2 separate regions of the Homo sapiens genome follow, and region 2 is linked to region 1. Evidence: fine-mapped expression QTL. Tissue or cell type: atrial appendage. Region 1 holds a variant in brackets; the other region holds the start of a gene. All regions are shown on one strand. Distances are between the middles of the regions.

Region 1 (2,918 bases):
GACGCTTTCTCATAATTCAACAGCCTTCAGCCTATGAACAATAATTTAGTTTTTGTAAAGAATAAAAAACACATCTTTTTATAAATTTGTTGAAAGGTAAAGTTCATTTTTTTCTCATTCCCCTCTTTTCTTTCCATCTCTTCTTGATGATTATTTTTTGAGGTTACTTTAATCCAGGATGAAATACAGCAATTAGAAAATAACATGCATTAAATCTTACAGTATATTAGAGAAAATCGTCAAAATTAATAAAAGCAGAAAGAGTCCTCTTTTGTAAAGAAAAAAATGAAGAAACTAATAGTCTAGAAATATGCGTATGCATTTAGTGCATAAAAATGGAAAATGGAGGGTAATTCCGTGCAAGCTGGACACCTGTATTTGAATAAGTTTAGTAATGAAAAAGGGCCAACCTATTTTATTTTAAGATGAGGATTCAGGGGGACTGGAGGGCCGTGGGCACCTGCGTCTTCCAGAGGCAACCCTGGAATGAGTTTGTTTCCATTTCTTGCAGCAGCTGGCTTAGCTAACCACACAATCTGAAAGATGCCTGAAGGCAGTTAAACAGTCCTCACCTATTCAGCCGTAATTCACCCAATTAGGTGACAGGTCCGACCCGAAGGACCTGGAGAGGCTCTCACAGTCATCACATCTTCTTTTTGGCCAGTTGAGAGCTGGCTCCGACTCGGAGGCGTGGGGGGCCCTGCACAGACCCAGGGGAGCTGCTGGGATGGAGCCCACCTCAGGGGTCTGGGACGTTGCTTCAGACTCGCCTTTCAACGGAACATGCTGGGCTGACAGCCTTGTGGTTTCCCTGACTTTGAATCGGGTCTGTTTGGCATATTTGCTTAGAGACCTAGTCTTGAAGAGTTCGATGGTTTGGCTTCAGAAATTGTTTTAGAATATTTTCGAATAGGACAGAGTGATCAAGGGAAAAATGCTGAATAGGAAACACTACCATGTAAATGTGGAATCTTTTAAAGAGCTAAAATATTAAAGTACTGAAACAATATGAAGATGTTTGATTTACTTATTTTCACACATACAAGATGTGTGTGTATTTGTGAGTGTGTATCTGTGTGCATTCCTGTGTGTGTGCACCTGGGTGTGCACACCTGCGTACCTCTAAGCACCGTTCTAGCTGTGGGGAAATAGCAGTGAACAATAGTCTTGCCCTCCTAAAGGGAGAGAGAAATAGGAGAAACGGGTAAGGAGCCTGGTACGGGTCGAGTGATAAA[C/T]GCTGTGGAGAGCGAAGCAGAGGGGCTGGGGTCCTGGAACCCCAGGCAGGGTCCACACTGAAGTTTTAAATTTAGGGGATCGGGAGGGTTATTTTGGTCAAATAGGAGGGGAACCTGCAGGAGCTACTGTGCTCTGGACGAGGAATGAGGCTGGCAGGCCTGGCCGGGGCATCCAGCTCTGTGGACCTGAAGCTTCCGTGACGGTGGCACTCATTTAGGGATGACAAGCCTTAGAGCCAAAGGTGGAGGTGAGCGCGAGACCAGGTTGAGCAAAGCCCCATCAGCCACGAGGCTTCCTAGAGGGCAGGGGGACTGGAGGACACAGGAGCATGAGGGCAGGAGCCCTGAGAACAAGGGGCCATGCTGGCAGGCGAAGATGTGGCTGATTGTCTGGGAAGGGGAGGCCAGTGCTGGGTGAGGGCGTGAACCTGCGTGCCCTTATATTTTGTGGTAGCCATATTTACAAAAACGAAACAGTAACCGGTAAAATTCCTGCTGCCGATGTATTTTACTGAACTCAGTATATCAGAACAACTATCCACTCACCCTGAAATCAATGCGACACATCTTTGGACATTTGAGACTCTATGCCACATACCAAGTCTCTAAAATCCAACTTGTATTATACATCTATAGCCCCCGCCCCATTCAATCCAGGGCAGCATTGCAGTGCCGTGGCCCCCAGCAGCCCACATCAGAGCCTGGGTGCTGACGTCCTGGCAGGGGGAACTGGAGGCGCCAAAAGGAAATGCCTTCTTCAGTAGGGGAGTGTCCCCCGCCCCACTGCTCTGGGAACAGCTGCAGGCAGGTTCCCTCTCTCCAAGCACTCTCAGACAGTGCTGTGATGAGACCCTTGTCACAGGTATTTTTGGGGACTCTGTGTCTTCTAGGAAAGGCTCCCGGGTCGTGGTCTCCCTGACAAGAGTCCTGCACTATGCAGGTTGCTCTCCTGATCCTCAAATGTGTCCTGGAGCTTCCCCTGGACCCTGGACACCCCAGCACATGGGTGAGCCGATGTCCAATGCAGGCCACGCACGAAATGCATCCACAGTGGGAGCCAGTGGTCATCCTGGTCAGGGCCAGCCTGCAGTTACCCCTGCCTGGCAAATAAGACATGGAGGTCGGGAGGGCTGGTTCCCTACTCCTGGTCATGTCACGGGACATTCTGGAACTGAGGCTCCATGTCTAGAAGCAGTGCCTGCTGGTGTCCCTGTGAGCTTGGGGGCCCATCTTCCAGGCCAGTCCTTGGTTCCTGCATAATCATTATGATACTGCCTTTCTTCTTCATAATTTTATGGAGGCTGACTTTATTTTCATTTCTCTGGTATATTTTTTAAAAACAAAAAGCAAAGTAGAAAGAATAATGTAAGACAAATGCCATTTGTTTTCTACCCGATAATATTCTGTAATAATTGTAACTCTCTTTTAACAAAATAAAAAACATGAACTGTTGCAGGCAAACCCCTCTGTCACCCTCCACTGTCTTTGCCATTTCTGATCTTTGCCAGAATTGTCTTTTAAAATTTTATTAGTGGTGAAATATGACAGTTTCCCACCTAAGATCAGAAGCAGCAGAGGGCTGCCTGTGCCCACCAGAGCCGTTCACGATGGTGCCAGGAATCCTAGTCGGCTTACTCAGACAAGCAAAAAACACATCATGTTTGGAAAGAAAAGAGTGAGATT
Region 2 (2,918 bases), 26 kb after region 1:
AGGGTGATGAAATAATCTGTCCAACAAACCCCCAGACATGAGTTTACCTGTATAGCAAACCTGTACATGTAGGGTGATGAAATAATCTGTACAACAAACCCCCCAGACATGAGTTTACCTACACAGCAAACCTGTACATGTAGGGTGATGAAATAATCTGTACAACAAACCCCCCAGACATGAGTTTACCTGTATAGCAAACCTGTACATGTAGGGTGATGAAATAATCTGTACAACAAACCCCCAGACATGAGTTTACCTGTATAGCAAACCTGTACATGTAGGGTGATGAAATAATCTGTACAACAAACCCCCAGACATGAGTTTACCTGCATAGCAAACCTGTACATGTAGGGTGATGAAATAATCTGTCCAACAAACCCCCAGACATGAGTTTACCTGTATAGCAAACCTGTACATGTAGGGTGATGAAATAATCTGTACAACAAACCCCCCAGACATGAGTTTACCTACATAGCAAACCTGTACATGTAGGGTGATGAAATAATCTGTACAACAAACCCCCCAGACATGAGTTTACCTGTATAGCAAACCTGTACATGTAGGGTGATGAAATAATCTGTACAACAAACCCCCAGACATGAGTTTACCTGTATAGCAAACCTGTACATGTAGGGTGATGAAATAATCTGTACAACAAACCCCCCAGACATGAGTTTACCTGTATAGCAAACCTGTACATGTAGGGTGATGAAATAATCTGTACAACAAACCCCCAGACATGAGTTTACCTGTATAGCAAACCTGTACATGTAGGGTGATGAAATAATCTGTACAACAAACCCCCCAGACATGAGTTTACTTGTATAGCAAACCTGTACATGTAGGGTGATGAAATAATCTGTACAACAAACCCCCCAGACATGAGTTTACTTGTATAGCAAACCTGTACATGTAGGGTGATGAAATAATCTGTACAACAAACCCCCCAGACATGAGTTTACTTGTATAGCAAACCTGTACATGTAGGGTGATGAAATAATCTGTACAACAAACCCCCCAGACATGAGTTTACCTACATAGCAAACCTGTACATGTAGGGTGATGAAATAATCTGTACAACAAACCCCCAGACATGAGTTTACCTGTATAGCAAACCTGTACATGTAGCCCTGAGCCTAAAATAATAGATTATTTTAAAAAGATACTGGATTTATGAAGTCCCCAGGAGGTCAGGAGGAAGAGAGAACGCTTGAGACAAGCATGGTCAGTGAGGAGCTTGCAGGGATGGCAGAGGGGCAGGGAGCAGCAGAGTTTGAGTAGAGGAACCAGAAGCCCAGCCCTGGACCCATCTCTGCCTTCCTGTGTGTGCGCCTAACTCAGCTTTCAGGTGAGAGCTGGGGCTCAGGAGGTTATGTACTCACTTGCAGTTGCACGTCTAGGAATCCAGATGATGGTCCCATGTCTGCTGTGCCCCCGCCCTACTCTATTGCTAGGACAGCCAACCTCTACTCAGGGGCTGCAGCCGGTCAGCTGGCATCTACCAGGCTCAGCTGAGAGGGGTTCAGAGCCTAGAGGAGCTGTGGCATGCCAGGTCTAGGCTGCCTGTTGGCTGCTGTCAGGATGAATGCTGTTGTAGATAGATTCTTTTTGGCAACCAGAGACTTTCAGACGTCAATGGCCATGCAGTCTCCATGTTGCCCTTCCCATCCTGACACCACACACTCCTTATGCTGCAGCCACCATGGATGCCTGAGTGAACAGCCCTCAAATTCTATTCTAACTCCTTATTTAAAAGATAAGGAGACCCAAGACTGAGGAATTTGACATAAATAAGGAAACCGGCTTGCCTGAGCTGACTACTGCCTTTGGTCTCACGATAGCTGCCTGGTGGCCTCTGACTTTCACAGCTAGTACAACCTTCCAGCACCTTCCAGGATTGGTTTCTGAAAGAGGGGATTGTTTTTGCTCCCAGTCCCCCTAAACATTCTGTAGGTAATTACAGCACTCATGGCCCCATTTTCTCACTGTGTATTTGCCACCTTGGGTCTGTTCAGATGGCAAGCTCCCGAAAACCAGGCACCTCCTCCTTGTACCCATGGCACCATCGTGGTGCCTGGCTGCTGTCAGCACAGAGCATTAGCTCTGAGACACCTCCTCCTTGTACCCATGACACCGTCGTGGTGCCTGGCTGCTGTCAGCACAGAGCATTAGCTCTGAGACACCTCCTCCTTGTACCCATGACACCGTCGTGGTGCCTGGCTGCTGTCAGCACAGAGCATTAGCTCTGAGACACCTCCTCCTTGTACCCATGGCACCGTCGTGGTGCCTGGCTGCTGTCAGCACAGAGCATTAGCTCTGAGACACCTCCTCCTTGTACCCATGACACCGTCGTGGTGCCTGGCTGCTGTCAGCACAGAGCATTAGCTCTGAGACACCTCCTCCTTGTACCCATGACACCGTCGTGGTGCCTGGCTGCTGTCAGCACAGAGCATTAGCTCTGAGACACCTCCTCCTTGTACCCATGGCACCGTCATGGTGCCTGGCTGCTGTCAGCACAGAGCATTAGCTCTGAGACACCTCCTCCTTGTACCCATGACACCGTCGTGGTGCCTGGCTGCTGTCAGCACAGAGCATTAGCTCTGAGACACCTCCTCCTTGTACCCATGGCACCGTCGTGGTGCCTGGCTGCTGTCAGCACAGAGCATTAGCTCTGAGACACCTCCTCCTTGTACCCATGACACCGTCGTGGTGCCTGGCTGCTGCATTAGCTCTGAGACACTGCTGTGTTTCCCTCCTAGTTCTGCATCAGGTGGTACTGTTTTGTTTTGGTGGCTTGGTTCATTTTTTCTTATTGCAGTATTATCACTGCATAGAAAGCAGAAGTGGTCTTCCCATATTGTGTAAAATCCCCATTAAACATACACCACATGCTTCAGAGCGGCAGGAACAGGAAG

The links.
Region 2: it holds the start of LINC01880, and the variant in region 1 is fine-mapped to the expression of LINC01880 in atrial appendage (GTEx, PIP 0.94).

The regions. Positions count from the first base shown.
Region 1 is chr2:242,056,329-242,059,246 of GRCh38, forward strand. The region is part of intron 3 of LINC01237 (long intergenic non-protein coding RNA 1237); the gene reads left to right. All of the region lies in intron 2 of LINC01880 (long intergenic non-protein coding RNA 1880), which reads right to left. Among named protein-coding and RNA genes, the nearest start is that of LINC01880, 26 kb to the right of the region's middle. The variant C/T (reference allele first, on the strand shown) is at 1,236.
Region 2 is chr2:242,082,711-242,085,628 of GRCh38, forward strand. It overlaps LINC01880 (long intergenic non-protein coding RNA 1880), which reads right to left and starts at 1,428. Exons shown (of 4, transcript NR_146651.1): 1 at 1,386-1,428.